Linked DNA regions of Homo sapiens. The protein of the gene in region 3 binds, or shares a complex with, the protein of the main gene of each other region. Each region holds a gene or a part of one and is shown on either strand. Other genes may lie near its edges. The genes, in order: SNAP29, STX17 and VAMP8. A codon is read from its position in the direction of its gene.

Region 1 (7,103 bases), on a different chromosome or scaffold from region 3:
AGGACGTAGAACGAGAGGGTCTGAACAAGAACAGGACAAAACGAGGCCCTCTAATATGTCAGACGAAGACAAATTTCCAGAAAAGTGAAGGCAACTCCCCTTCCATATACCTGGGGTTAAGAAAAAAAAAACCAAAAAACAGAGAAGGGCGGGTGACTGGCTTCATCAGTCCAGCAAAAGACAGGGAATGTGCATAAAATAAGATGTTACTGTGCTTCAAGTCAGTTGAATCACTAATCTCATTAGGCAAGTGGAAGTCTGCTGAGAATGTGGCAGTGGCCTTTACATGTATTTATTTTAAATAATTAGCTTAGGTCTGAGCTATAATGACTAATCTCCACGAGTCTATGCCTGACGGTGATAAAAAGTTGACATACATGGAAGGTGTTAGAGGAAAGAACCAGAAACAATTACAGTAAGTGGAACCGTGCACAAAAGCTGCTCTGCATCCCGGGTTCATGCTTTTAAGCAGCCTTTTTGCTGAAAGCCTCACGAAGTAGTTTTGTTTGGGTTGAGTGTTATGTTTAAAATTTCCCTTCTACCAGTTATTGAGAAAATAATAATGCCGAGCTCATCTAATAAACAAATGTCTAGTTCGATAAGCTTTAATCAGGCCCTCACACCCTGGGATGGTCGTTAATGACATGGATCAGAATCCCTGAGGTGGCTGGAATCTAACAAGTGGGTAGCACAGAAAGCTCACCTTGCCTATGGAGGCTGTGGATATTTTTAGGAAGGTCATGCATTATGGGATGGGAATTTTTATAAACAAATTGCTACATAAAAACTAATGCACTGTTGCAGCACTTGTGGAGGTTTCCTTTGCTTTGAGACACCACTGTTTATAGGCTGCAGACTGTAAAGGGAAGTACTGGGAAATGGCAAAGGTCACATGGGCCAGTGCCATGTTTTAAGGTCAAAGGCACTGTTATTTTAAGTGACCTATCTCATTATTAAAATCAGTCACTTTCACCATCTTCAAAATATTTTGTTTTTTTAAAAAGACAAGGGCCTTGTGGCTCCAACTATTTTGTTGGATGTACCAACATAAATAAATCAGTTTTAATTGATGCTTCTGCATGATTTCTTTTGTAAAATGAAAGGAGAAAATGAACTGGGCCAGTTAAAATGGTATCTGGGCTTTTTGCCCCCTTAGCAAAATCCTTCTATACAAAGTCAGCGTCATTTATAGAGTGCCAGTCCTAAAACCAGGTGGCAGAGAAATAAGTGATGATTCAAGTTACCTTGCAAGAAGTGCAGAAGAGTGGGTGGGAATGCTAGACAGGTCAGGAGACCCCCGGTACCAAATAAACATTTTGCCCTACTGAGGCCTGCCTAATGGTGATTCCCAGAGGGGTGGAGGAAGACCATTGTGCAGCTGCATCTGTGCAATACTCCATTCCCACAAACTCTATTGGGCGCCCCTGTCGGTCAGCCTCGCAGCCTCGAGCCAGTGGAAGACCTGTTGCAAATCACAGATGGAGAGTTACAGATGGGAGCACGTGGGGAAGAGGGGCTCACCCAATTCCCCACACATTTCCAGGAGTCGCAGTGAGCAGTGCTGGTGTGAAGCCCTCCTACTAATATACATGCCAAGGATGGGGGGCTGGAGGGAAGCGGGGACATCTGCCAACAAAAGAGCAAGATGGCACACTCTATTTCCCATTCTAACACTGATCCTTTCTGGGAGGATGAAAGAATCACAGATAATGTGCTCAGAGAGTGTGTGTGTGTGTGTGTGTGTGTGTGTGTGTGTGTGTGTGTGTGAATGATGACTCCTAAACAAAGGTGTGGGAAGGACCCTCCTCCACCAAACGACTGGTTCACAGGCCCCCTTAACACTCTGACTCATGGTAAGGCTTAGGAATGAGAAATAGAGGCTCATGGCTGCAAGACTGAAATTCTGTTCCCATCTTTCCATATGCTCATTAAAATGAGAAATGCAACTCTTCTTATTCCAGCATGGTAATCAAACGCCCAAGATATGCAGGGCCAGGCTACTGTGCTCAGACAAAAACTCTAATAAGCATTTTGCTGGAAGAACTTGGTGAGGTGTTAACCCTAGGAAAATGTGGGACAAACACTTCCTTATAACAGCAAAAATGTCTTAAGACCTACTCTATTATAACATTTGCAAACACACATTAATTTACATACTAAAATAGTAAATGAAATTTCTTGGAAGTTCAAAAAAAGATCTTTCAAATCTTTTCATCACAATAGAGTGGAAATCCGTCTGTCTTCAGAGTTGTCGAACTTTTCTTTCTGTGCTTTTTATGTTGACATCTAACTTGTCCACTTTGGTTGTCAGCCGGTCAAGAATGTCATCTTGCTCCTCAATTTCTGTCTGCATCCCCAGGGCTATGTCCTTCAGACGACCCAGTCCCATGGACAGCTCATCTGCAGGAGGAGGAAATGACACGCAGGCATGAGCAAACAGTCACGGCACCTGCAAATGCTTCTTGATGGTGTGGGTAAGTGGGAGAGACAGGGATCTGTGTTGCCTGGGGGGACTGCACCCACTGCAGAGATGAGTCTTGACTTAATTGATTCTGTCAGGGTGAAGAGTAAAGCCTTTTCCCAGGTTTGTGACTGTGTGTGTGTGTGTGTATGTGTGTGTGTGTTTGTGCACGCTGGGGGTAGGGAGATATGCCCAGGGCTGCTTTCTGCCTTTTTACTAGGAACAGCAGCCAGGAAAGAGCCAGAGAGGAGAGAGAAGAGGTGGTGCTTTGTAAGCCTTCTTACTTGCAAGATTAAATATAAAACACTAAGAGAAAAAGGATCAGGATACACAAAGGCTTAGCACTGGTACCACAAATCTAAGCAAAATCAGTTTTTTGTTTTTTTTTTTTTTGAGACAGCATTTTGCTCTTTTGTCCAGGCTGGAGTGCAGTGCCATGATCTCGGCTCACTGCAACCTCCGTCTCCTGGGTTCAAGCAATTCTTCTGCCTCAGCCTCCTGAGTAGCTGGGACTACAGGCACACGCCACCACACCCGACTAATTTTTTTTGTATTTTTAGTAGAGATAGGGTTTCACCATATTGGCCAGGCTGGTCTCGAACTCCTTACCTTGTGATCCGCCCGTCTTGGCCTCCCAAAGTGCTAGGATTACAGGCGTGAGCCACCGCGCCCGGCCAAAATCAGTTTTTTTAAAAAGGTAGTTTTGGCCGGGTACAATGGCTCATGCCTGTAATCCCAGCACTTTGAGAGGCTGAGGTGGGTGGATCGTATGAGGTCGGGATTTTGAGGCCAGCTTGGCCAACATGGTGAAACCCCATCTCTACTAAAAAATATAAAAATTAGCCAGATGTGGTGGTGCATGCCTGTATTCCCTGCTACTCGGGAGGCTGAGGCAAGAGAATCACTTGAACCTGAGAGGAGGAGGTTGCAGTAAGCTGAGATCAATGCACTGCACTCCAACCTGGGCGACAGAGCAAGACTCCGTCTCAAAAAATGAAATAAAAAGATAGGCTGAGTGTGGTGGCTCATGCCTGTAATCCCAGCACTTTGGGAGGCCGAGGTGGGTGGATCACTTGAGGTCAGGAGATCGAGACCATCCTGGCTAACATGGTGAAACCCCGTCTCTACTAAAAATACAAAAATTAGCTGGGCATGGTGGTGCACACCTTGTAATCCCAGCTACTCGGGAGGCTGAGGCATGAGAATCACTTGAACCCAGCAGGCAGAGGCTGCAGTGAGCTGAGATTGTGCCACTGCACTCTAGCCTGGGCGACAGAGTAAAACTCTCAGAAAGAAATTAAAAAATATAAAAATAAAAAGATTGTCTTCAAGTCAGGCACAGTGGCTCATGCTTGTAATCCCAGCACTCTGGGAGGCTGAGGTGGGAGGATCACTTGAGCCCAGAAGTTGGAGACTAGCCTGGGCAACAAAGCGAGACTCCATTTCTAAAAAAGAAAAGAAAAGAAAGAGAAAAACAGTATAATTAAAATTAAAAAAAAAAAAAAGATAAGTCTTCAGCTCTTTGCTTCTTAAGCTTACTAAAATTCATGGCCTCGTGCTCCATGGAGAGCAGAGCCTGTGGTTGCCTCAGGCCTCAGGAGGAAGCTCACTGGCAGCCAGGGCAGCAAAGGATAAGCAAACAGAGAGGCTGAGATAAAATGTGTGATAATGTAAAACCACCAGGCCAGGGCGCTGGAGTCCAGAGAGCTTGCCTGAGATCCTGAAATAGCAGGGAGATAGTGTTAAGACGGGAAGAGTGTGAACAAAGGCAACACTCCCTGCCCCACCAGAGTGGACCGGCCTGGCCTGTGTCAGCAGGGCCAGAGGGCTGAGCTCTGAACTAGCCACTCGCCCTTCTGCCCAGGCCCACCTCCTACTCTAGACTGCGTCCTGCCGGTAACTGCCCAGCTGCTCGTCCACAGTGCCAACTGTGCACCCTCAGCACCTCCTAGTGGCGGGCAGTACTCAGCACTTCTTCCTGCCTCTGAATGCAGTATCCTTCCTCAAAGTCCCTTCTCCCACTTCTGCCAGCAGGCACCAACCATACCACTAGCCCTAACCTCTCCCTTTCTCGCAGTGAAGGACAAAGGGCTTTCACGCCTCTCTGGGCTTCTCTGGAGTGGTTAGATCTGGGCAGACACACCTTCTGCCTCAGATAAGTCTTTGGCTCTGGAGGACAGAGTCCAGGGCATAGAAGGAGGTGGCAGCTGTCTGGGGCTTCCCAGACAGCAAGCAGGAGAAAACCCGTGCACAGACACTCCATGTGCATCTTCATGGGTTTCAGTTTTGCCTTCCACTAGATACCTTTACAGCAGGGGAGGATTTTATTATTTGTCCCCTACACTTTGCCAACTCCTAACAGGGGGTGGGAGACTGACAGGGTGACCCAGGTCACCACGGGGGAGATTTCTGCTCAGGGAGTAGCGGTAGGAGGAGGCAGCAAGTCTGAGACACTACTTAGAATAAACTCACAGAACTGCCCACAGGCCAACACCTACTTGAATTTCAAGTAACTGACTTTTCCATTCAAAAAATAATCACTGGCTAGGGCGCAGTGGCTCACACCTATAATCCCAGCACTTTGGGAGGCCGAGACAGGCGGGTCACCTGAGGTCGGGAGTTCGAGACCAGCCTGACCAACAAGGAGAAACCTCATCTCTACTAAAAATACAAAATTAGCTGAGCATGGTGGTGCATGTCTGTAATTCCAGCTACTCGGGAGGCCGAGGCAGGAGAATCGCTTGAACCCAGGAGGCAGCGGTTGCAGTGAGCTGAGATTGCACCATTGCACTGCAGCCTGGGCAACAAAAGCAAAACTCTGTCTCAAAACAAAACAAAACAAAACAAAACATAATCACTAAGTGCTTGCCTGCTGGGCCCCAGATACAAAGTAGTGACAAAATGGAAACACTCCCATGCTGTCCTGGAATCTACAGTCTGATTGGGAAGACAGCAGGCAAACCAGCAGATACACAATCACAAACGGCCAGGGCAGCCCCCTGGAAACACAAGGGTCCTGAGAGACAGGGAGAGGAGGCCATACTAATGCAAGACTGACAGAAAGAGAAGGAGCCAGCCTACAGAGAGTCGGGGGAGCCCATCCAGGCAGATAGGGGCCACGAGGCAGAAAGAACTCACATCAGAAATCCCACACGAGCCTGCAGGTGATGAGGGCAGAAGGGACTAGGGCAGCCAAAGAGAGCCTGGACTGCACTGTGAGTGTGTGGGGTTCCATGAGAGAGTTCTGGAAGAATATACCCTTCACTTCTTCTTTTTTTTTTTTTTTAGGTGGAGTTTCGCTCTTGTTGCCCAGGTTGGAGTGCAATGGTGCGATCTTGGCTCACTGCAACCTCTGCCTCCCGGGTTCAAGTGATTCTCCTGCCTCAGCCACCCGATAGCTGGGATTACAGGCGCCTGCCACCACGCCCGGCTAATTTTTGTATTTTTAGTAGAGACAGGGTTTCACCATGTTGGTCAGGCTGGTCTTGAACTCCTGACCTCGGGTGATCCACCCGCCTTGGCCTCCCAAAGTGCTGGGATTGCAGGCGTGAGCCACTGCGCCCGGCCCCCTGCACACCCTTCCGTTTTGAAACATCATGCTGGAGGCTGTGTGGCCAAAGTGCCAATTGCAACACGAGCACTAACTCTTACCATCCCAGGCACTTTCTGGCTCAGGTAACCTTTCCACTGTTCTCAGAGGTAGCCCATTTCACAAGGAGGAAAACAGGGCTCTGAGTGGCCAGGTGGGAAGGATGAAGTGAGCGGTCACGTCCAGGCTATACTTTATGGCCTCTCAGGGACTCCTGGGTCCCTGGTGCTGTTCATGAAAGTGAGAGGTGGGGAGGGCTCGGCTGGGCTAGAAGTAGGAAATGGTGAGAAGTGGAGAGATTCCAGAGACAGTGAGGTGGCAAGATGGACCCAGCTTGGCGTGGGATGTGATGTGTGGTGAGGGAACTGAAGCTGGAGGATGCTCATGCAGGGGCTATGCTTGGCGTAAGCTGCCTGAAGGACAGTGGCTTACAGAAGCTGGTGTGGTGCTCAGTCTTACCTAGGTTGCTGTCGATCTTCTGGTGATAGGCTCGAAGGTGTGGGTTCTTTGGGTAAGCATCAGTACTCATGGCAGAACCAGCCCCTCTGGGGACAGGGTCTAAGTTTAGAAGGAAACACCAGGAGAGCGGTTAATTGACATTCCTTCAAATGCTGCTTCACACACCCAAAACAATTTCATCTGGAAAATGGGTGGAAGGAACGAAGGGGTTGGTTCTGAGGCTATCCAGAGGGATGAGGGAGGAGCACAGCGCAGGCTCATGGGCCAGAAGAAGAGACGCTTCCACGGGGTAGGAGAGGGTTCTCACTTTCCCTCAGTACTTGGGAGATCAAACACCCTCAAATTAAGGGTCACCTAACTCCTGGTGCACAAGCTCAGGAAAGACAGAGTCACACAAGTGACAATACAGAAGTGGAACTGCAATAATGCAAAACTACACAGTCTGTGGACAAAGTATAAAAATACAAATTGTTACGTTACATAAATGGAATTATGGGTAATTTCGTTTCTTTCTGAAATTTATTTCTACACTATCTTTGCACTTGAAACAAATACGCAAAAAAAAAAAAAAGAAATGTTAAATAATGCACATTT
Region 2 (7,103 bases), on a different chromosome or scaffold from region 3:
TTTAGCATTCATTCAATCATTCAATTTTTATTTTCCTCAATAGCAAAACTTATTTAAGTCAGCTTTCTTTTTCTGACCCATAGAAGAAAAAGTTCCAGCACTAATAATATACAACTTGTCTAGATTTCTGACACCCTATCATTGTTTCTATTTAGGACACCCCCAACACTTTCCACTCTTGCCTGAAACAGTCTATGCTAGCAGATAAATCACAGGCTTAAAACTCTACCATCAGCCGTCATATGTTGATGAGTTGAAAGGTAGAGGAAAAATAGTCAGTGTCTCCCTTCCTTCAGCCCCAAAATAATTCCAGCAAGAGGGAGGAGCCTGCCAGGATTATTGCCATTTCTATACCCCAAGTGTAATCGTAAAGCCTCAGGGAAATACTTTCTAATGTTCCTTCCTTTAAAAAGGGTTGGATATTGTACTTCTATGACTTTTTAAAAATTAAAGCAAAATTTTAAAATAATTTAAATATTTTTTCATAAAAATCATTTGGAATAACTGAAGAAGCAACCACAGGCAAAAAACCAATCCTGAGATCACTAATTATTTGAACTACAAAGTTCCCCATCATTGCAATCACCAGCATTTGATGAGGCCCATCCCACCCTGGGGAGTAGCCCACATCTATAAGTATTTATTCATGCCATCAGAAAGCATGCTAAGATATGGGGCTGGGGTGTGGGAATAAGGCAGAGGGCAGACAGCCCCTATCCTGGGATCAATAATCACCCCTCGATTGTGCACGTCTGCCTTTCTCTTGTCCGTATTTTGCTTGGTTTGCAACTTCAAACTTTGCCCATATCTTCAAATTCTGCTTCTTGAGTAAGGAGGACTCACTGACCCCCACAAAGGTTACAGTTAGGCAGCAAACTATTGTCACAGAGTTGTCAATTACCATCAGCAGAATGCCAAACCAGACTCCATACAGAGCTGAATTGGGTCACTACCTGTCCACTATGTCCTTGGCTCTTTTTGTGGGACCAAAAGATACATATACAACCCTGCCCCAGCCTGTGAAATCAAGCTCTAAACATTAATGGTGGTGCAGGAGCCTCCTAACCTCTATCTATCAATCTCCCCTGAGGTTTTGCTTCTGATTTGCTCATGTTTATTTTCATCTGCTTAGGCCTCCCACATTTGACAATCTTCAAATTCCATACCTGCCATTTTATAGTTTGGCACCCCATATATGTTCTCAGCATTCCTTTAACAATGAGCTAAACCATATTTAAGTGTTTAGCTCATTACACTGCAGTGTTTCTCAAGCTAGAGTAATATACTGACCTCCTTTTACAGAAAAAGAAAATTCTCAAATGACTCTAAGAATATGTCTACGGATTTCATTTTAAAGAACATTGAATTAAGTCCCCCTATTGGCCTGAACATAACAAATCTTGACGAACAGCTATAGGAGTACCTAAGTTTCTGTATAAACTGTGATTTATTATACTTGTCAAGCAGAATGCAATTTGGGAATATAAATTCAAAACCAATGAACTGTTTTGTTCTTGAATGCCTGTTGGGGACACTTGTAGGCCTAGCATCCTCTATGTCAAGCAATAATAATACATTCAAAAATTAACCCCCAAATCCATTTATATCATTAACAGTGGTCTTCCATAGAGAGTTCTGATAGTAGTTGTAAAGTTTAAGGTTCTTGGAAAGCTACGAGTTTATTTAAGAGGGTAATACCAAAACTCCAGGTACGTCCATTTATTCCTCTCTAAATTCCAGCCAGCCTTCAAGGCCAAGTTCTAATCTTAGATCTTGACCAATCCTGTTCACATTGAGCTATTCTGGTTCTAAACTCCTATGATATATTCTATATACTCCTTAATCATATGCAATCATATACACAAAAAGGCCCAGAAACAAACTTATAAATACTATGATATATAGGCAAAATAAGTGATTATATTGGCTTCGAGTAAGCAATAAGCAGAGTAGATAAGTAGGATGTTGCTAACAGAGGATTCAGCAGTTGGAAAGGGACTGAAGGAATTCCAGTACTAAAATGCCTAAGGATAATAGTGGTGGAAAAAGTAGAATTTTTGCAAGGAGCCAAACAAGGAATGAAAATAAAGGAAGGACAAAAGTGGGAATGCAGTTGGGGTCAGTGGAAGGGAACAGAATGGGAAGTACTTAATAATACACATTACCTCATTTAGTCCTCCCATCAGTGTTATAAAGCTCATTGTTGTCAAATAACATCCTGAAGGTCACATAGGTAATAAATGAAGGAATCTGATCTAATCCATTGCAACCAGTTTTTATGTTTCCAGAGTAAAACTGGATTACAAAAACGACAGGGAATAAGGCAAAAGGCAGAAGTCAAAACAGACTAGCAGCAAGGGTGAGTTGTTACTGAACTACTGGCCCAGGGTTCTTTAAATTCTCCTTGACTAGAAATAGGGCTAGTTACAAAGTTATAGGGAGAGAAGAGGGCACTTGAACAACAAAGGCTGAAGAAAAATAGAGCAGGGTACCTAGTAGATATTAATTTATTAACATTTATTGTACTATACCTTGATCTGTCAATGGCTTTGTAAGTTCTTTTTATAGTGGTAAAATAAATATAACATAAATTTACCATTTTAACCATTTTGAAGTGTACAATTTAGTGGCAATAAGTAACTTCACAATATTGTGCAACCACTATTACTATCTTGTAAGTTTTTTAAATGCTTTTTTCTATTCCTCATTAAGCTTAGCACAGTGCTACGCAGATAGAAAGTGTTCCTTAAATACATGGTTAATTTGTCTAGACACTATCATGTCCATGTGATGATAATGAGAGGATGTGGTCACTCTGGTTATGTTCCTAGGTCATTCTGTGCCTAAATAGAGCTTCTGTGAATCCTTGGCCATGTGGTCATGAGAACTTAGTCACCCTGGGAATAATAATCAGGGGTTCTCCTTTGAGCTTTTGCTTATTAGCATTCTGTCTCATGTACTTAAACAGATTATTACAAACAGGACATTTGTATAGAGCTGTGGCTACAGCCAGAGTTTTCCTACACAAATCTCCCTTAGATTAGAGGTTATGAGCTGCTTACATAATATAATCAAACATGTAACTATCTTATGGTCACAGACCTTTAATATTTCTTTTATGTGCCTATCCCAGTAGAAAAGAAATGTGTTTGTACTGAGTAAGAACTTTGTACATGTGTAGTTTGTTTTTTAAAATCAGCTTTATTGAGGTATAATTTACATATATTAAAACACATTTTATGTGTACAGACCAATGACTTTTGGCAAGTGTATATATTTGTGTAACCATACATGTATAGGTTTTACAAACTGCACTGGATTCAGAGATTATTAGTTTACAATAGTTGAATAAATGTTGATTCTGAAACAACAGATATTTTGGGATTCTTGTTCTATTATTTCCTTCTGTTTGCGAGTATATTAATATTGTACAGATACCTAATCCAGAAACTTCAAATATTTTGCTTCTTCTAACTTAGAGGCATCCAGAAGCAATTCAAACAATTTACTGCATTCAATTTTAGGTAACACATTTCAAGAAAATATTCAGAATATGGAACATAAGCATAGTAAGAAGCCAGTATTGAGAAGCCTAGAAATTATATTGTAGAAGGAATGCAAAAGAAGCAAGGGTTCTGAAGAGAAGAAAATATGGTGGGGTGGGATAGAGTGAGGAAAGATGATGGTTTCAAAACCTTGAAAGACTTTCATATGGAAAGAAGGCAAAATTTGTTCAGTACGTAGCTTTAGAGGCCAAAAATGCCAAAAAGAAGTTATTATAGGGCAGACACTTTTAACTCTAACCCTTCTAAGAGTTAGACCCTCCAAATGCAATAGTTTAAGTATCAATATCCTTGTGCTGTAATTGTTCCAAAAGAGGCTAAAAGACCATTTATTTTAGAAATTGGGGCAAGAGTAGAGGGATTAGATTAGTTGGCCTCTTGAGTCCTTTCTCATTCCAATTCTGATTGTGTGATCTAGGAACTTCTCATTTAAAATTAGATCTCAGGGAAACCGTAACTCAAAGATAACCCCAAAATCATGGTTAGATCAGAAACAAAGAACTAAACCTAGACAGAACTGCAAGCAGAAACAGGTATGCCTGTGTGGACACACATACATAAATATACATACACACGTATTCATACATCCTACCTTCCCATAACTCCTGAGAAAGACAAAAAGAACAATTTAGAAAAATGGTGGAAAATCTATCTTTCCCAACAAATTGACTTTGTGCTTCCTAATCTATGTTAACAGTATCACTGACACCCAATTATGCAGAATAAAGACAATGTTCCTTATCTTTGGCTCCATCTTCCTCCAATTTCTGTTAAGTCCCCCAGAAATATCTCTCAGCTGTCCTTTACCTTTACACTGGTATTGCCATTGCTCCAGGTGAACTCTTGCAATTGATTCCTAACCAGTCTTCCTTTCCATGACCTCCTCCTCTCTTAGGCCATTATTCACAAAGCCAACAGTGATCTTTCTGAAGCACAGACTGAATTGCATGACTCTAACCTGCTCAAGAATCAGTATTAGGCTTTCTAATGCCCACAAAGTAAAGTTCAAATTCTTTAGCATGGCATTCAAAGCCATCACAATCTGGCCCTCACCCTCCTTGCTTGCCCATGGTACCTTATGCTTTGGTTATACTGCAGTACTTGTCAATCTGGAACAGGCCATACACTTCTCTACTCCATGTCTTTGTTCAGCTTCTCAAATATACTCCATAACTTCCCCCAGTGGATATTTACTCATTTTTCAAGGCTCATACAAATACTGTCTACCTGTGTGAAGCTATCCTTAATGCTTCTTTCTACCTTATGACTCCTGCCTCCTTCCTTTGGAATTAAATGCTTTTCCTTGGAGCTGATAATACCTCTCTTCATTCTTGCTTTTGCATTTAGCCATCATGCTTGAAAGCTCAGTTTCTGGGGTCCAGGCCTATCTCCACTCACTGTAGAATGCTCAAAGGCAGCAGGGCGTGGTGGCTCATGCCTGTAATCCCAGAACTTTGGGAGGCTGAGGCGGGTGGATCATGAGGTCAGGAGTTTGAGACCAGCCTGACCAACATGGTGAAACCCCGTCTTCACTAAAAATACAAAAACTAGCTGGGCATGGTGGCACGTGCCTGTAATCCCAGCTACTCAGGAGGCTGAGGGAGGCAAATCGCTTGAATCTGGGAGGCGGAGGTTGCAGTGAGCCAAGACTGTGCCACTGCATTCCAGCCTGGGCGACAGAGTGAGACTCCGTCTCAAAAAAAAAAAACACAAAAAACAAGAATCTTCAAAGGCAGAGAATGGGCTTCATTTATTTCTATATCCAACCTGACCACACTCTCAATGTTAAGCATCTAACACACTGCTTGTATATAACAAGTGCTTAATAAAAGTTTCTTGAATTAATCTGGAATTTGAGAACAGTTAAACTTCTATCTATGGCTTAATACCAGTCTTAAAAATTATAAGTTCTATTAAAATTCTAATTAAAAGCCTAGTGATTATAAAAGCTTCTCATTCTAATAATCCAACAATTCTGCATCCAAAACAGTTATATACTTACATTCACTAGGAGAGAGAAGTCAGTGACCAGTTGGCTAAGTTCAATTAAGTCCTTTAAAAGAAAGGGAGAGGAAGTTACTTTTATGCCTCACAACTACCAAAAAGAAAACATTTTTTAACATACCGCTTCTAAGGTTTCCCACGATTCTGCAGCATTTTGATCTTGAGGAATTTCAGGTAAGGCATATATCTGAGTCAAACTCTGAGAACTAGCTTCAGCTTCAGTAGTATGAAATGCTCCTGGATGAACATAATAACCCCATGTTTAGAGTTTATTTGCTTTGTTAGAAAAGAGACAGCATAAATTGATTTCATAAAACAAATGCCACGTTAAATGGTGTCTAATTAAATTTAGGCTAAAAGGAAATTGATTATTCTACAAAAATAGAATTGTTTGGCTGGGTGCAGTGGCTCACACCTATAATCTCAGCACTTTGGCAGGCTGAGGCGGGAGGACTGCCTGGGCCCAGGAGTTCAAGACCCGTCTGGGCAACAGAGTGAGACCTCGTCTCTACAAAGAAATTAAAAAGTTAGCCAGGTGTAGTGGCACACACCTGTAGTCCCAGCTACTTGGGAGGCTGAGGTGGGGGGATCACTTCAGCCTGGGAGGTCGAGGTTGCAGTGAGCAGTGATCACGCCGCTGCACTCCAGCCTAGGTGAACAGAGCAAGATCCTGCCTCAAAAAAAAAAAAAAAAAAAAGATTTATCCATAGGGTAGCTTGTTCCCCAGATTAGTTAACACATTTTTTTTTTCTAAAATTTTTTTTTTTGTTTTTAATTGACACACAGTCTTGCTATGTTGCCCAGGCTGGTCTTGAACTCCCGGCCTCAACTGATCCTCCTGCCTCAGCTTCCCAAAATGCTAGAATTACAGGCGTAAGCCATGACACCAAGCTTACACACATATTTTTTTAATCTACACAGTCATTTAAAAAATGGCTACAAATACTATCTATCCAATCTGAATAACTAGGGCTAAATGTGGAAGAAGCACCAAAAGAAAACTATTCTACTTGGCCAATGTTCCAAGGAGACGTACCTATATAAATAGGTTTAATATTTTTCATCCTTAAACTTCTATTTGGCTATTTCAATGTAAATACCAGATACAGAAGGTGTTGAAAGCAGGGAAGTAATATATTTTTATTAATGATAATCAGTCACTATTGGTAATAATAAGATTGTCACCAAACATTACCATATGTGTCTTTTTTGTCACTACTCTTCTCCTCAATCTTCTGGCCCATGACTCCATTGCTTCTACTTCTTTTGAGTTTTAAAAAGTTGTCAACCCAGTAGGACTTTCCCCATTAAACACTGCTATGATGATGAATTAATTCACACTTTAAAATCTACCTTCAAGTCTTTATTTCCTCATATTGGTTTTACCAATCATTCATTCATTGAGTTGACATTTATTAAATGCCTACTACCTGCTGATCAGTGTGCTGAGGTGCTGCAGACACAATGGCAAACCATAAAAACAGTTCGGAGGAGGCAACATAGTGTAGTGGTTAGGAGCCTGGGCCTAGTCAGAAA
Region 3 (7,028 bases):
GAGGCTTAGAGTTGTTATGCAAGTTTGTCCCAGGTCATGTAAATATTAAGGTATGGATCAGCCACCATGCCCAGTGATAAGCCACATTACAATATGTATTTTAACATTTTTCACTAATCACATAATTTACATTTTTCTACTGGCCAAATTTTAAAAGTAAGAGAAACAGGGCTGGATGCAGTAGCTCATGCCTGTAATGCTAACACTTTAGGAGGCTGAGGCAGGAGGATCACTTGAAACCAGGAATTTGAGGTTACAATGAACTATGATTGTGACACTGTACTCCAGCCTGGGTGACAGTGAGACCCTGTCTCAAAAAAAATAAATAAATAAATAAAAATGAATTTTAAAAAATAAAGAAACAGGTGAAATTATTATTATTATTATTTTTTTTTTTTGGAGACAGTCTCACTCTGTTACTCAGGCTGGAGTGCAGTGGCGCCATCACGGCTCACTGCAACCTCTGCTTCCCAGGTTCAAGTGATTCTCTTGCCTCAGCCTCCCGAGTAGCTGGGATTACAGGCAAGCGCCACCACGTCCAGCTAATTTTTGTATTTTTAGTAGAGACGGAGTTTCACCATGTTGGCCAGGCTGGTCTCAATCTCCTGACCTCATGATCGGCCTGCCTCAGCCTCTCAAAGTGCTGGGATTATAGGTGTGAGCCACCATCCCCGGCTGAAATTAATTTTATTTATTTTATTAATCTTTTATTTAACTCAATATATCCAAACATTATTTCGCCACATAATCAATATATAAAATTATTATTATTATCATTATTAGTGACAGGGTCTATCTCTGTCTCCCAGGCTGGAGTGCAGTGGCACTATCATAGCTCACTGATGTCTCACACCCCTGGGCTCAAGTGATCCTTCTGTGCTAGCTCTCCAAGCAGCTAGGACTATGGACATGCACCACTATGCCTGGCTAATTTTATTTTATTATTTATTTATTATTGGTTTTTTTTTTTGAGATAGAGTCTCACTCTTGTTGCCCAGGCTGGAGTGCAATGGTGTGATATCGGCTCACTGCAGCCTCCACCTCCCGGGTTCAAGCAATTCTCCTGCCTCAGCCTCCCGAGTAGCTAGGATTACAGGCATGCGCCACCATGCCTGGCTAATTTTGTATTTTTAGTAAAGATGGGTTTTCTCCATGTTGGTCAAGAGCTGGTCTCGAACTCCCGACCTCAGGTGATCTGCCCATCTCGGCCTCTCAAAGTGCTGGGATTACAGGCGTGAGCCACGGTGCCCAGCCAATTTTATTTTTTTAATTTTACTTTATTTTTATTTTATTATTATTATTATTATTATTATTACTTGAGACAGAGTCTCACTCTGTCGCCCAGGCTGAATTGCAACGGTGTGATCTCGGCTTACTGCAACCTCCGCCTCCAAGGTTCAAGCGACTCTCCTGCCTCAGCCTTCCGAGTAGTTGGGAATACAGGTGCCCACCACCATGCCCAGCTAGTTTTTGTATTTTTAGTAGAGATGGGGTTTCGACATGTTGATCAGGCTGGTGTCAAACTTCTGACCTCAGGTGATCCACTGCCTCGGCCTCCCAAAGGGCTGGGATTACAGGCATGAGCCACTGTGTCCAACAGTTTTATTTTTTTATAGAGACAGTGTCTTGATATGTTGTTGCCCAGGCTTATATATAATATTTGCTGAGCATGGTGGGTTATGCCTATAATCCCAGCACTTTGGGAGGCTGAGGTGGGAGAATCACTTGAGGTTTGGAGTTTGAGACCAGTTTGGACAACACAGCAAGACACTGTCTCCAAAAAAAAAAAAAAATTAACTGGACATGGTGGCCCTTGCCTGTAGTCCCAGCTAACTGGGGAGGATGAGGTGAGAAGATTGCTTGAGCCCAGGAGTTCAAGGCTGCAGTGAGCTTGAACACACTGCACTGTACTCTAGCCTGGATGACAGAGTGGGACCCTGCCTCTAAAAAAAAAAAAAAAAAGCTACAGGGGTCCGAAGTTTGTTTAAAGCTTTTAAAAAGGCATTTGTGGCCGGGCGCGGTGGCTCACGCCTGTAATCCCAGCACTTTGGGAGGCCAAGGCGGGCGGATCACCTGAGAGGTCAGGAGTTCGAGACCACCCTGACTAACATGGTAAGACCCTGTCTCTACTAAAAATACAAAAAAATTAGCCGTGCCTGGTGGCATGCACCTGTAGTCCCAGCTACTAGGGAGGCTGAAGCAGGAAAATCGCTTGAACCTGGGAGGCAGAGGCTGCAGTGAGCCGAGATAGCGCCATTGCACTCCAACCTGGGCAACAAGAGAGAAACATCTCAAAAAAAAAAAAAATTATTTGTGTCTGGATGTGGTGGCTCACACCTATGATCCCAACACTTTGGGAAGCTGAGGAGGGAGGATTACTTGAGAACAGGAGTTTGAGACCAGCCTGGGCAACATGGTAAGACCCCCATCTCTACAAAAAGTTTTAAAATAAATTAGCCAGACATGGCGGTTCGCACCTGTAGTTTCAGTTACTGGGGAGGCTGAGGCAGGACGATCGCTGTAGCCCAGGAGTTCAAGGCTGCAGGGTGCTACGATCATGCCACTGGACTCTAGCCTGGGTGACAGAGGGAGACTATCTCAAGAAAACAAAACAAAATAAACAAACAAAAAAAGTGTTTGTTGGAGAAGCTGACATTTCCTCCTTGGAACTGATTTCTTCTGGAATGGGTCAAGAATGTTCGTTCCCTTCTGAATGTCCCTGTTATTGTTCTTCTGTCTTGATAAACACTGTCAAGGAAGATCAGATTTTCTCTGGCCTGGAGCCAGGTTAGTGGAAAAATCCTTTGCCTTGGGCCCCCTGCTCTGGTTCACTGGGGCAGTCCTCTGATCACTGACTGGGATCAATTACCTCTGCGGTAGCCCCTAAAGGGAAATGCAGAATTGCTGAACTCTGGAAGGGAAGGAGAGGTTTGGTGAGCCATCATTATAGACACTGTGCTAGTGGCATTGCACTGCACATGCTATCTTTTTGCTTCTTTTTTTTTTTTTTTTTTTGAGGCAGAGTCTTGCTCTTGTCACCCAGGCTGGAGTGCAATGGCATGATCTCAGCTCACTGCAATCTCTGTCTCCCGGGTTCAAGCAATTCTCCTGCCTCAGCCTCCTGAGTAGCTGGGATTATAGGCAACTGCCACCACGCCTGTTTATTATTTTGTATTTTTAGTAGAGACAGGGTTTCGCCATGTTGGCCAGGCTGGTCTTTAACTCCTGACCTTGTGATCTGCCCGCCTCGGCCTCCCAAAGTGCTGGGATTACAGGCGTGAGCCACCACGCCCGGCCTCTTTTTGCTTCTTACCAGCACCATCTGAGCTAAGCATCAGCACCTGCAAACTCCACAGAGGTGAAAAGTTTCCCTGAGGGGCCTGTAACTAGTAACCCAGAACTTTCTGAATCAGAGCCCAGGATCACAGTATTCCAGACTTCAGGGATTTTAGTGCTTTCTGCCACCCAGGGACCTGGGAACAAGTGTTATCCAGCAATACATTTTCATAACTGCATTTTGTTTCCCTGTGAGCTAGGCCTGGCATGGTTGATCTCAGTCTCTAGAAACTGGAGTCAGATATTCAAGACATTACAAGGAGATGGCTGGTGGGGCATCATGGCTCCTAGGACTTTGGGAGGTTGAGGTGGGAGGATCGCCTGAGCCCAGGAGTTTGAGACCAGCCTGGGCAACATGGTGAGAACTCGTCTCTATTTAAAAAAAAAAAAAAAAAAAAAAAGGCTGCCCTTTCTAGATCAGGAGGTCCAGCCTCTGGAAACCTCGGAGGGCTGCTTGATCTTTCTTTTCTAATTCCTGACAAGTTAGAAGACCTTTGGCTTCTGAGAACCCTATTACTTTAAGTTTAAGCTCTTGTTTGGGAAGCCACTGGGAGGACAGTGAAGAATGCCCGCCTACCTGGGGAAACCTGAGTTAGGTGTGGCTGGAGCGACTCGAGATGCGAGGTGGGCGGGGGCAGGCTGAAAGTTGGAGCAAGCAGGAAGTGAACTGAGGGCCACCCTGGGAGGAAGCCGACTAGGCGAATTCACTTACTGACCGGCCTGGGCTGCTCTGAGACATGGTGAGCCAACTGGGAACTAGGAAAGGGCTGGTTTAAAGAGGAGCCAGAGGGGGCTTGGGACTGGGGGTTGGCTGTGTCGGGGGAGGAGAGTTGGTGGCAAAGTTAGAGGGCTGGGCCAGTGCTGCTATGGCCTCTCTTCTTTGACAACTTGGCTGCAAATAGCTCTGAGCTGTCCTGGCAGGTGTTTCTACTCCTTCTCCCTCCCTCCCCTGACCTCTGTGCTGGTGGGGAGCTGGGCTTCCGTGCCAGCGCCGATGGGGGCTCCGAATTCCAGGCAAAGAGTTGTTGTGCCTTCCTCCTCCAGGGAGCCCGAGGCGGGTGTTGTGACACCACACCAGGCAGCGCCTGGGCAGTTCCCAGTTCAGATTCCAGCCCAGCGGCAGAAGCTCTCCTCTCCGGCCTTTCACTTTATCCCCACACAGAAACACAAAGGATTTGTGTGTCCACTGAGTCCTTTGGGTGTCCTTTCTCCATTAACATGGAGAAGAGAACTAAAGGTTTATAAGAGAACCAGAAGTTGGTTCTCTGTGATAATGTAGTTCTGACCCATGCCACTGGCCTATTTTTGGAGGTCAAGCGGGGAGGAGCTAAATACTATTTTTCTCTCCTTGTTCAAAAACCTTGTCATGAAGCCTCCGAGATGAGACATCAGCCAGGGAGGACTAGTCCTCCATTTCCCCCAACACCCAGGCGGGTATTTTTATTTAATATCTGCATAAGCAGGCGGTTGCTTGGTGCCTGCACGTGTCGCCCAGTGGTGGGGAAAGCAGAAGTGTGTGGCTCAACGGCTCCAGGCGCCTTCTGGGATACTTGGTTGCCTGTTGTTCTGGGTCACAGCAATGGCATTGCGGCCAGGGCCGTGCTCCGGCAGCTGGCTTAGAGGGACAGATGGGTGGGGCTGGGTGAGGGTGTTCTGCTGGCCAGCACAGACACTTTCAACCAGGGTCCCAAGAAATCAGGAAAGGGGGGTGGCTCTGGGAATTGTAAATAGTGGCGGGCTCTGCTCTGGAAGGGAACATTGTGAGATGCTGGCCCTGCTGTATTCTACGGCCCTCTCTAGGGAGCAAGGAAGCAGTGGGGAGGGATTTAGTGATGTGCTGCTTTTCCTTGTCAGGGGCCCTAATAACCCCAAAAGAAGTTTGATCTAGTCTGTTCAGCATCACATCTCACCTTCTGGGGCTTACAAATGCATTTATTTTTGATTACAGAAGTAATACATGAAAACATTCTCTTTGTAAACATTTCAAGCATTTTACAAAAAGCTTAAGTCTGCCTGAGGCCTTACCCTCCCCAGATCTCTGAGCCCAAGTCTCCAGTTCCCCCACCACTTGGTCTAATTAACCCCGTGTTGCCGCACAGGAGGAAGCCAGTGAAGGTGGAGGAAATGATCGTGTGCGGAACCTGCAAAGTGAGGTGGAGGGAGTTAAGAATATTATGACCCAGAATGTGGAGCGGATCCTGGCCCGGGGGGAAAACTTGGAACATCTCCGCAACAAGACAGAGGATCTGGAAGCCACAGTGAGACAGGGAGCCCACTGGGGGCTGGAGGAAAACAGGGAGGGAGGGAATTTCTTTTTGGTGGGGCAAAATGGACAGGAGGGCCAGAAGTTTGACATTTCTGTTGCCTTTCACCTGGTTTGGGAGCTGATGTGAGCTGAGTCTCCACTTCTGAATCTGCTCTGCTCCACAGATTGTTATGGATCCCAGGGAATGGATCCCATGACTGGGGCTTGAGGTGGCAGCTCGCCCATAGAGGCATGTTCTGAGACCGAAAGCTCAGTCAGCCCATGCATTCTCAGGCTTCTCTCCCGGGAAACTTGTTTTCCCTTTGAAGCCTGCCCATGACAATCATCTGGGTCTGACCTTCCCAGGGCAGAAATATTGGCTCTGAGGAAACCCCCGCTGTGGCCTCTAGCCTTCTCTAGGAGCTGTTAGACAAGGGGTGGGAAATTGCTGGCGTCTTGCTGAGTAGGCTTTAAAAAGAAGGGGGAAAGAGCAGTGAAATGCTTTGATCCCAGGGTCCCCTGCTAGATGAAGGCTAAAATAATATCTCCCACACATCTTGCTAGACCTCATTCTTCTCTCTCTCCAGCCAGGGGCTGAGGCCAGCTGTTTCAGGGAGGAAGTAACTCCAAAGTTGAGCAAAGTCTGGAGCCTCAAGTTCTGTGTTCAGCGGGGAGGCTGGCTCTGGCTTTCTGAGTCCTGTGTGAACTCTTGGCTCTTGGGTATTGCTCCCTTGTCTCCCTGGGGCTCATTGCCTGTTTCTGTAGCTTAATTGTAGCTTAATTTGGGGAGCATGGCCCCGGGAATTTTTTTTTTTTTTTTAGACAGAGCCTCACTCTGTTGCCCAGGTTAGAGTGAGTGCAATCTTGGCTCACTGCAAACTTCACCTCCTGGGTTCAAACGATTCTCGTGCCTCAGCCTCCTGAGTAGCTGGGATTACAGTGTGCACCCCCACACCTGGCTAATTTTTTGTATTTTTAGTAGAGACGAAGTTTTGCCTTGTTGGCCAGGGTGGTCTTGACCTCCTGACCTCAGGTGATCCACCTGCCTTGGCCTCTCAAAGTGCTGGGATTACAGACTTGAGCCACCATGTCTGGACAAGCCCCAGGAAATTTAGTGTCTATAACTTGAATTGCTGGGCATGGGGAAGAGTGGGTGGAGGAGGAGGAGTTCCCTTACTTCCAACCCTCTATCCTGTCCTGGTCCCTCCTCCAGCCTCAGCAGTCCCGATGGGGCAAGGAGTCCTGGAGCTGCGAGATGTGCCCACCTGGAGCCTGCACCCCTCAGTCCCAGGGTCTGCCCTCCCAAGGGCAGATTTTGCTGCCAGTGTTGTACCCTTGGGTGTAAGCAGGTGTCGAGGACCCCTCAGTGTGCAGGGGTAAGAAGAGAAAGGGGACCCCTAGTCATATCTAGGTGGAGACCTCCTAGGATCCTGAGAATTCTAAATTT

Evidence for each region.
Region 1: the proteins of VAMP8 (region 3) and SNAP29 are in contact, whole or in part, in a crystal structure (PDB 4WY4), measured with the Homo sapiens proteins. Residues at the interface, in NP_003752.2 of Homo sapiens: Leu16 (codon at 5,478), Glu19 (codon at 5,487), Val20 (codon at 5,490), Val23 (codon at 5,499), Ile26 (codon at 5,508), Met27 (codon at 5,511), Gln29 (codon at 5,517), Asn30 (codon at 5,520), Arg33 (codon at 5,529), Ile34 (codon at 5,532), Arg37 (codon at 5,541), Asn40 (codon at 5,550), Leu41 (codon at 5,553), Leu44 (codon at 5,562), Lys47 (codon at 5,571), Thr48 (codon at 5,574), Asp50 (codon at 5,580), Leu51 (codon at 5,583), Thr54 (codon at 5,592), Ser55, His57, Phe58, Thr61, Ser62, Val65, Lys68, Phe69; in NP_004773.1 of Homo sapiens: Leu206 (codon at 6,513), Leu209 (codon at 2,395), Ser210 (codon at 2,392), Leu213 (codon at 2,383), Leu216 (codon at 2,374), Lys217 (codon at 2,371), Ala220 (codon at 2,362), Leu221 (codon at 2,359), Met223 (codon at 2,353), Gln224 (codon at 2,350), Ile227 (codon at 2,341), Glu228 (codon at 2,338), Gln230 (codon at 2,332), Asp231 (codon at 2,329), Leu234 (codon at 2,320), Leu237 (codon at 2,311), Thr238 (codon at 2,308), Val241 (codon at 2,299), Asp242 (codon at 2,296), Leu244 (codon at 2,290), Asp245 (codon at 2,287), Ile248 (codon at 2,278), Lys249 (codon at 2,275), Thr251 (codon at 2,269), Glu252 (codon at 2,266), Val255 (codon at 2,257), Arg256 (codon at 2,254), Leu258 (codon at 2,248).
Region 2: the proteins of VAMP8 (region 3) and STX17 are in contact, whole or in part, in a crystal structure (PDB 7BV6), measured with the Homo sapiens proteins. Residues at the interface, in NP_003752.2 of Homo sapiens: Gly9 (codon at 5,457), Val13 (codon at 5,469), Leu16 (codon at 5,478), Gln17 (codon at 5,481), Val20 (codon at 5,490), Glu21 (codon at 5,493), Val23 (codon at 5,499), Lys24 (codon at 5,502), Met27 (codon at 5,511), Thr28 (codon at 5,514), Asn30 (codon at 5,520), Val31 (codon at 5,523), Ile34 (codon at 5,532), Leu35 (codon at 5,535), Arg37 (codon at 5,541), Gly38 (codon at 5,544), Leu41 (codon at 5,553), Glu42 (codon at 5,556), Leu44 (codon at 5,562), Arg45 (codon at 5,565), Thr48 (codon at 5,574), Glu49 (codon at 5,577), Leu51 (codon at 5,583), Glu52 (codon at 5,586), Ser55, Glu56, Phe58, Lys59, Ser62, Gln63; in NP_060389.2 of Homo sapiens: Ser171 (codon at 5,709), Trp172 (codon at 5,706), Thr174 (codon at 5,700), Leu175 (codon at 5,697), Asp178 (codon at 5,616), Leu179 (codon at 5,613), Glu181 (codon at 5,607), Leu182 (codon at 5,604), Leu185 (codon at 5,595), Val186 (codon at 5,592), Phe189 (codon at 5,583), Leu192 (codon at 5,574), Val193 (codon at 5,571), Gln196, Glu198, Lys199, Ile200, Ser202, Ile203, His206, Val207, Ser209, Ala210, Asn213, Val214, Glu216, Gly217, Thr218, Asn220, Leu221.

What each region holds. Positions count from the first base shown.
Region 1 is NC_000022.11:20,882,976-20,890,078, reverse strand, and holds part of SNAP29 (synaptosomal-associated protein 29), read right to left. Parts: intron 6,609-7,103; coding exon 6,510-6,608; intron 2,401-6,509; coding exon 2,243-2,400; 3' UTR 1-2,242. UniProt on the Homo sapiens protein: SNAREs, soluble N-ethylmaleimide-sensitive factor-attachment protein receptors, are essential proteins for fusion of cellular membranes.
Region 2 is NC_000009.12:99,958,618-99,965,720, reverse strand, and holds part of STX17 (syntaxin-17), read right to left. Parts: intron 5,805-7,103; coding exon 5,689-5,804; intron 5,617-5,688; coding exon 5,566-5,616; intron 1-5,565. UniProt on the Homo sapiens protein: SNAREs, soluble N-ethylmaleimide-sensitive factor-attachment protein receptors, are essential proteins for fusion of cellular membranes.
Region 3 is NC_000002.12:85,573,574-85,580,601, forward strand, and holds the start of VAMP8 (vesicle-associated membrane protein 8), read left to right. Parts: upstream 1-4,012; 5' UTR 4,013-4,073; coding exon 4,074-4,076; intron 4,077-5,435; coding exon 5,436-5,594; intron 5,595-6,168; coding exon of another isoform or gene 6,169-6,301; intron 6,302-7,028. UniProt on the Homo sapiens protein: SNAREs, soluble N-ethylmaleimide-sensitive factor-attachment protein receptors, are essential proteins for fusion of cellular membranes.